2 separate regions of the Homo sapiens genome follow, and region 2 is linked to region 1. The links come from fine-mapping of genetic effects on gene expression. A gene starts in region 1. The other region holds a variant in brackets. All regions are shown on one strand. Distances are between the middles of the regions.

Region 1 (4,505 bases):
CAAGACTCTGTCTCAAAAAAAAAAAAAAAAAAGTCTCTTATCATAGGGTTACTGTGAGAATTAAATTGCTCCATGTTTAATTGATACATGATAAACTGATACTTAGCACAGGGCCTAGTAAATATCAGTGCTCTAGTAGTGCCTGCCCATATTATTATCATTGTTTGTGTCATTTATCTCTGTAGTAGGAAGTATATACAATCCTATTGCATAGGTTTAAGGGAATTAATCCACTAAAGTGTTTGGAACAGAGCCTGGCACATATTGCTATGTAACTGCATCATCATCATCATCCCTTTTTAATAGATGAGAAAACTGAATTTCAGAGAGGGTAGTCTGATCTGAAATTCACCTATTATTCCAGCTTCTCTCTTCCAAATACGGCCTCTGTGCCCTGTTTCTTCCCCCAGGAGGAGATGAACGGCTGGCTGGAGGCTGTAGCTTCCTCGGTGGCGGAACACGCAGAGATCGCCCGCTGGGGCCAGACACTACCCACTACTTCATCCACAGATGAGGGCAACCCTAAGAGGGAAGGCGGAGATCGCAGGGCCAGCGGGCGCAGGAAGTGACTTCCCACCCCCAGGACCTGACACATCTCGTCTCCCCTCTTTTCCGCACTGTGGGCACAAAGACACTTTTTCTTCCGCAGGGGCGGGAGCCCCTAGTTCCAACACTGAGGACGCGTGACATGGTGGGCACCGGAAAGGAGGGGACTTCTCCTGCACCCCAAGAAGTGGTGGGGAGATTGCTGCCCCTATAGCCATATCTCGGCCCCTTCCCACTCACCACCCCCACCCCAGGTGCTGGGGGTCCCTTATTTTTATGCAATAACTGAGCTTGATGGGGGTGGGCAGGGGGCCAGTTGAGCCAAGCCCCCAGCCCCGATCTGCAGATCCTGCCCCAAGAAGCTGGGGTGGTGGGGGCAGTAATTCCTGCCCCCCTCTCTGCCCTAGGGATGGGCACGGGGGCGCTGGTGAGGTCCCCTGGACCATCCAGGGTGCTAGGGGGCAGGGAGGGGACACCCCCTCCCCGCCTTTACCTCACTTCCAATGCTGCCTTGATCTCTGTCTGGGAGGGGGGAGTGAAGGGGCCCTAGCCCCCTGCACTCCGCCGCCTCAGAGCCATGCGGTTAATTCCTGACTTAGTTTATTTTTGCAAAACGTCGATCTCCTCCTCCCCCGCCCCGCATCCGCGAAGGCTTTTAATGGGAGGGGCGTCAAAGCTCAAAACTGTTTTCCTCTCTCCTCCCCCCTCCAGTTGTAAATGCCACTTCATGAGGGGAGGGGCGAGGGGAAGCCCACCCCTGCATGCTTCTGGCTGGAGCACCTCCCTGGGGAGTCGGGGGATTGGGTTGTGGGCAGTCCCCATGGCCGCCTGGAGAAGCCGCTGGGGCCCGGGGGTGTGGGGCGGTGTGGCGGGCGCACACTGTATGTACCTATAATAAACCCTTTGGCTTTGACGGTCTATGGTCCTTTGTTTGGGTTTTCTGGGCTGCGCCCGGGAGGATTGAAAGGAGGGCTGTGGTGGCTGTAGGGGTGGGTGCGGGGTGGGGAGAGGGGCACGGGGGTACCGTGGCTGCGGAGAACATCCAGATGTACCCTTTTATGTGGACTTAATTTCGGGGTCTAAACACACGCCCCTTGACGAGAACCTAGAGGGATGGAGAATATTTCGTTATGCTTCGTAATAAACTTCCCCAAAGGAGACTCCGGGTCCGCCCCGTCAAGTTCAGGAAAGGCGGACCCCTTTAAGGAGGCGGAAAAGTTAACCGCGATGGGCAGGCGCTCTGTCCAATCGCTAGTGACTCCTGGAGTCTCTGGCCCAATGAGCAGCCTATGGAGGCGGGGTCCGGGTGCACACCCGGAAGTGGGTGCGGGCCAGCCGGCTCGCCCGGGGGCCATGGCAGCAGCGGCTACTGCAGCCGAGGGGGTCCCCAGTCGGGGGCCTCCCGGGGAAGTCATTCATCTGAATGTGGGAGGCAAGAGGTGAGTGTGGGAGACTCCTGAGGTCCCATCCTCGGGGGCGGGAAGCGGGGTGGGAGTATCCGCCTCTCCTGGGGGAATCCCTGTCCATCAAGGGTTGCTCCGCCCCCCCCCCCTTTGGAGGCGCGAGATTCTGGAAAAACGCCGGGGGAGGGGGAAGGGGAGGGAACCCTGGATCCTGCGGGAGGGGGACGCATTCCTCACCCGCTCCTCTTCATCTCTTGCGTCCGTTTACCTTCCCCGCCCAGATTCAGTACCTCTCGCCAGACTCTCACCTGGATCCCAGACTCCTTCTTCTCCAGGTGATCGGGAGAGCGAGTTTGGGGCGAGGGTAGGAGGGATGGAGAGGGCGTGGGAGACCTAATATCCACTCCCCCGGCCCGTGACGCCTGCTCGGTGTCCCTTCCCTGCAGTCTTCTGAGCGGACGCATCTCGACGCTGAAAGATGAGACCGGAGCAGTGAGTCGGACAAGAACTGAAATGGGATGGGGGGGAGGGGTTGGTAGGAAGAGGGGCAGGACCCCACTCAGTCCTGCCTTTTACCCCATCCATCCTCTGCCCCCCTTTCCCGCAGATCTTCATCGACAGGGACCCTACAGTCTTCGCCCCCATCCTCAACTTCCTGCGCACCAAAGAGTTGGATCCCAGGTTGGCATGGAAAAAGGGGAGGGAGTCCCTCACTGTCTTCAGTCCCTGAGGAGTTCTTTCACCTCCTCTGAATGTCCACGTGAGCTCCATTCTATTAGAATTCTCATTCAGAACCTTGATCACAGGCCGGGCGCGCCGGGATTGCTCACGCCTGTAATCCCAACACTTTGGGAGGCCGAGGTGGGAGGATCACTTGAGCCCAGGATTTGGAGACTAGCCTGGGCAACATAGCGAGACCCCTTCTCTAAAAAAGCAAACAGGCAAAACTTCATGAGAATCTTGATCATGTTAAAATTTTATGTCCTTCGATTTCTCCCTACACACACACACACACACACACACACACACACACACACACACACTCAACATTTCCTCCACCCATATCATCACTCCTTAGCATCTTTATTCCATCAAAACTTTCTACCCCTTGACATTCTCTGTGCAGTTTTGAAAATTACCCTCTCAGCATTCTCTGTTCACCCCCACACCTAGACCCTGACCTCTAGTCAATTCTACTACCCAGGGGTGTCCACGGTTCCAGCCTCCTCCATGAAGCCCAGTTCTATGGGCTCACTCCTCTGGGTAAGTGGGAGCCCCCAGCTATCATCCTCATTGTATAGAAAACCAACTCTGTGATGCTACCTGCCCCTCTTCCCCTTCTCTCCTGAAAGAGGGCTGGGGTAGAGGTGGGAGGACTGGTTATGGCCCTGGCCGGGTCTGTATTCGTACTGGGAGGAGTATTGGTACTCTGTGTAGAAAGAAATGGGGAGGGGGAAATGGGGTGGCCTCAGCATCTCCCTAAGTCCCAGCCTTTAAGTCCTCCTGTTGCAGTTCGTCGCCTGCAGCTTCGAGAGGAGTTGGATCGATCTTCTTGTGGAAACGTCCTCTTCAATGGTTACCTGCCGCCACCAGGTAGGCACTCCCAATGGAATGGAGGGGCGCGGAGGTGGGCCAAAGACTACATTTCCCATAAGGCTGCAGCTCTCGGGTGCCTGTGCTGTGCGTCCTGAGATACAGTGGGAGGTGTAGTTCCCTATCAGATGCTTGGGCTGATGCTTGGAAAGGAAGTTGGACACAGCATTTCCCATGAGACAATGGGCCAGCTAACTCTTGAGGCTCAGAAGGATGTCCTGGAGCCCCATGGGAGTTGTAGTCCGGGTTTGGTTTCTTTGTAGGGGGGGCTTTGGAAGACCTGGGATTCTTCGTATGGAGGGGAGAAATATTAATAGGAAGTTATTGACAGTAATGCCCATGATAGCCAGCCCACTGGCCATGGAAGGTATGCCCCAGTGGTTATTGGAACTAGGCTTTTCTGATTGGTAGAAGTAACAGAGTAGGGAAATTTCATCTACAGCTTTATTTCCCTAACTGCAGTCAGCACCTGCTACCTTCATGAAAGTTGCCAGATATAAAGATCTGTAGTAGTACTTTTCCAACTTAGTTTTATCCTGTTTTCCGAAAAACAATCATTTATTTATTTATTTATTTATTTAATTTTATGAGACAGGGTCTGGCTTTGTCACCCAGGCTGGAGTGCAGTGGTGCGATCTTGGCTCACTGCAACCTCTGCCTCTCAGATTCAAGCCATCCTTCCACCTCAGCTCTGCCACTGAGTAGCTGAGACTACAAGCACTCGCCACCATGCCCGGCTAATTAAAAAAATAATAATCATTTTAAATGCAAGCTTTATATTATAAATACAAAGTAAACATGAAAATAAAACCCAAACATAGCAGTGTTATTAAACTCTGGCCTGTAGCAGTGGCTCACACCTGTAATCCTAGCAGTTTGGAGGCCGAGACAGGTGGATTACTTGAGACCTGGAGTTTGAGACCAGCCCAGGTGACACAGCAAGACCTCATCTCTACTAAAAAT
Region 2 (4,256 bases), 110 kb before region 1:
CCGGGGCCAATTCCTCTCTGGCTTGGACTCACATAAACTTGGATCTCACATCTTTCCCCATTTCTGCCCCCGTGGCCACTTGCTTTGGCCCCTGAGTCCTCATACACCTGGCTGGGGCGCTCATGGCCCCAATCAGCCTCGGCCCGACCCCATGGTGCCCCTTCCTAAAGTTCTGCCCGTCTGTCCCGTGACATGCCCCGCCCGCCCCGGCTCATGCCTGCTTGCACCGCCTGCGCCAGGGTGGTGAGCCCGGTCTGGCCAGTGGCGCCGAAGATCGCGATCTTCTTGACGGCCATCGTACGGGATCGTGGGGGTGCAAGGCCTCAGAGTCTCGGCACGCGCGGGAACCCACTGGCTGCTGGGCGGTGCTCTCTGCCCTACTCAAGCCAGGAACAACGGGGCGGAGCTGGCTCGAAGGGCCACGCCTCAGACTCTCCGCCCGCGGCTCAGGTCAAGGGGCGGGGCCTAACGCGGATGGGCGGGGCAGGCGTCAGCTTGCATTCGCTCACCGTCCAGCACCGCCCTCTCTGCGCGCCACTTAGACTGGAAGGCGGGGCCACAGAAGGCCACGCCTCCACATAGCAACAAATAGAGTGGACGGAGCCGAGATAACTTGTCACTCAGCGCCCTGCCTCCGCGCTCCACCTCCCGGAGAGGGGCGGGGCCAGGCGAGCCTCACCCACGGCCTCTCGTAGCTCACGCCCCCTCTCCCGGAGCCTGGAGCGGATCTGGGGCGCACTCTAAGCCCCAGGGCCTCCCAGAACCAGCAAGGGGAGAAAGTTAGGAGGACAGAGTGTGTGTGTGCACTTGGATGTAAGACACTGTGTCACGGCGTACCTATGCACTTATATGACCCTGTGTGACTCAGTGACCCGGAGGGCAAGCAGGACTGTGGGTGACACCTTGTGTCATCCTCTGAGTGTGATCCCGTGTTACAGTGTGACTACACGTGCGTGACACCACGTGTGGCAGGCATTGATTCTGTTCTTTTGTGACCTTGTGGTGACACCGTGGGTGACACTGCGTCAGCCTGTACGATAGGGTGTGGGACGTGTGAGGTGTGCTACATGGAAGCGTGAGACTAATTAGACTGTGACAGTGTGTGACACCACATGTCTCGTGTAAGGATGTGTGACACCGGGACCCCATTCGAGTGTGTGGCTGTGGGTGTCTGTGTTGAGCTGCTCATTGTGACCCCCTGTGACTATGATGTGTGAGGTGCGGCGGTGCAGCATGTGCGGGGCGACTGCTATGAAGGTTCGAGTGTGTAGAGTGTGTGACACTGTGGCTGTGAAGCTGTGCGTGATGTGTGGGCCTATGACACTGTTTGTGACTGCCGGGGAGTGTGCGGCTGTGTGTGACAGGTGCATTTGTGTGTGACGCCGCGTGGGCGGTGGTTACCCTATTGGATTTGTGTGGTGGTGGGTGACACCGTTCCAGTGTGGACGCCGCGTGTGACGGCGTGAGGGTGTGACCCCGTGAGACCCCACAGGAGGGAGTGACGGCGCGCAAGCGCGTGGATGCGGGGGTGAGTTTGTGCGCCGAGGCCCCCGCGAGTATGGCAGCGTGGCGAGCGTGACCCCGTGGGAGTGTGCAGCGCGTGACGCCGCCGTGCCCTCGCGAGTGCAGCCGTGCACCCCACGCCGCGGCCGGGTGTGACTGCGCGTGGGCCTCGGGCGGCGGGGCGCGGGGACCGCGGGCGGGAGGGGGTCCCGGGGGCGCGCTGAGCGCGGCGGCGGCGCGAGAGAGGGAGGCGCGGCGGCGCATGCGGATCTGGCTGAGCCGCGGGCCGGCGGGGCCGAGCTGAGCCGGGCTGGGCCGGGCCGGGCCGGGCCGGGCAGCGGACGCCGACAGGGAGGGCGGTCGGTCGCGGCGAGCAGCGGAGACAGCGACGCTGGCGGCCGCGGGCCCAGGTGAGCTGCTAGGGGGGCCGACAGCCCCTCCCCCAAGTATGTCCCCACCTGGCGAGCATCCCTCCTCCGCGCGCACGGGGCATGGCTGGAGCCCCGGGTCTCCCCGGCTGGAGGGAGGCAAAGGGTCGAGGGCAGGACGAGCCCACAACCCCCCCACCCGGTCTAGCTTCCGCGCCACGCGTGGGTCTTACCCCCAGGCCTTGTCCTTCCCAGGCCCCCTCCTTGGGCGCAGTGTCTGGACCGCAGGGAGAGAGGCGCGGCCTGGGAAGGGTTAAAGCCTCTGATGCCACCGCAGCCCAGCGCCCCACCAGCCTTTGCGGGGGGGGGGGGGTGTTGGGGGGAGGCTCGCAGGACACC[C/T]CTTCCCGGCTTCCCTATTACCTGCTCCCTTCCTTCCCATTCAATCGCGTTATGGCCAGAGCTGATCCTCGGCCTGGCCAGAGGGCTAACAGGAGTGCTAAGGGCCTCCCCATCTCTAAGTGTCTTCCACTGAAGAAAACAGCTGTAACCACCGTTTAACAGGGAGGGAAACTGAGGCACAGAAAGGCCAAGTTAAAGATACTCGGTTAAAGATACAGCAAGAATAAAGCGGAACTTGAACTCATTTCTGTCTGACTCCAGAAGAGGCAAATCGATTTGCTGAGATGTGTGAGGAAAAGATGAAGAATAATAGCAAGGAACATGTATCAAGGGCTTGCAGTGTACCAGATACCATGATCCCTGCATTAATAACTTACCTCTTCAAACACCGCTAAGAAACGGGTACGATTATCATTACTTTTTTTTTTTTTTGAGACGGAGTTTCACTCTTGTCACCCAAGTTGGAGTGTAATGGCGCGATCTTGGCTCACTGCAACCTCTGCCTCCCGACTTCAAGCAGTTCTCCTGCCTCAGCCTCCCAAGTAGCTGGGATTACGGGCATGAGCTACCATGCCTGGCTAATTTTGAATTTTTAGTAGACATGGGGTTTCACTATGTTGGTAAGGCTGGTCTCCAACTCTTGACCTCAGGTGACCCACCCACCTCCTTGGCCTCTCAAAGTGCTGGGATTATAGGCGTGAGCCACCGCCTGGCCTACCCTTTTGTGTGTGTGTGACAGAGTTTCATTCTGTCATTCAGGCTGGAGTGCAGTGAGTCAATCTCAGCTCACTGCAACCTCCATCCCCCAGGTTCAAGCGATTCTCCTGCCTCAGCCTCCCAAGTAACTGGGACTACAGACACGTGCCACCACGCCTGGCTAATTTTTGTATTTTTTTTAGTAAAGACCGGGTTTTGCCATGTTGGCCAGGCCGGTCTCGAATTCCTGGCCTCAAGTGATCCACCTACCTTGACCTCCCAAAGTGCTGAGATTATAAGCATGAGCCACCGTGCCGGGCCATCATTACTATTTTGCAGATGAACAAACTAAGGCCCAAAGAGTGGAAGTATTTCAGCCAAGGTCACACAGGTGGTAGGTAGCTGTGTGCTCACTTTCACTTTTCCATGGAAGGAGGGAAGAACAAAAATGGATTTGGGACTGGGCACAGTGGCTCACATGTGTAACCCCAGCACTTTGGGAAGTTGAAGTGGGCAAATAGCTTGAGCCCAGATGTTTGAGACCAGCCTGAGCAACATAGTGAGACCCCCTCTCTACAAAAAATACAAAAATTACCTGGTCATGGTGGAGCTTGCCTCTAGTCCCATCTACTCAGGAGGCTGAGGTGGGAGGATCGCGTGAGCACAAGAGTTGGAGGCTACAGGGAGCTATGATTGTGTCACTGCACTCTAGCCTGGGTGATAGAGCAATACCTTGTCTCAGAAAAAAAAAAAAGATTTCAATGTGTCCCCCTAAGGGACAATTTCCACTCTACTCACTCTACTGACCAAGACTTAGACCCTGCCTTCCTAGAATTCAGTGGGTTGGCAATTGTCTGGGTCTTTTGAGGACATTGATCTCCCAACTTCCTCCTTTGTTAGTCTTTTTTTTTTCCTTTTTCTTTTGAGAAGGAGTCTTACTCTGTCGCCCAGGCTAGAGTTTAGTGGCACAATCTCGGCTCACTACAACCTTCGCCTCCCGGTTTCAAGCAATTCTCCTGCCTCAGCCTCCTGAGTAGCTGGGATTACAGGCACCTGCAACCTTGCCCACCTAATTTTTGTGTTTTTAGTAGAGATGGGGTTTCACCATGTTGGCCAGGCTGGTCTTGAACTCCTGACCTCGTGATCCACCCGCCTCAGACTCCCAAAGTGCTAGGATTACAGGTGTGAGCCACCACGCCCAGCCGTTAGTCTTAGAATCAGGCCTGGGGGCCCAGAAGGTAAAGGAGATACATCTAATGTCACTTAACCCTTTAAATTTCTTCTCTTTTT

What was found. PIP is the estimated chance that this variant, and not a neighbour inherited with it, causes the effect.
Region 2: its variant is fine-mapped to the expression of SHKBP1 in subcutaneous fat (GTEx, PIP 0.99).

The regions. Positions count from the first base shown.
Region 1 is chr19:40,575,001-40,579,505 of GRCh38, forward strand. It overlaps SHKBP1 (SH3KBP1 binding protein 1), which reads left to right and starts at 1,873. Exons shown (of 18, transcript NM_138392.4): 1 at 1,873-1,985; 2 at 2,231-2,284; 3 at 2,396-2,441; 4 at 2,557-2,630; 5 at 3,154-3,212; 6 at 3,462-3,542. The coding sequence starts at 1,900. SPTBN4 (spectrin beta, non-erythrocytic 4) reads left to right here. Exons shown (of 36, transcript NM_020971.3): 36 at 411-1,464. The coding sequence ends at 569. RefSeq lists silencers at 1,262-1,351, 1,702-1,881, 1,902-1,971.
Region 2 is chr19:40,465,393-40,469,648 of GRCh38, forward strand. BLVRB (biliverdin reductase B) reads right to left here and starts at 353. Exons shown (of 5, transcript NM_000713.3): 1 at 218-353. The coding sequence starts at 296. SPTBN4 (spectrin beta, non-erythrocytic 4) reads left to right here and starts at 1,609. Exons shown (of 36, transcript NM_020971.3): 1 at 1,609-1,913. RefSeq lists a silencer at 568-767. The variant C/T (reference allele first, on the strand shown) is at 2,271.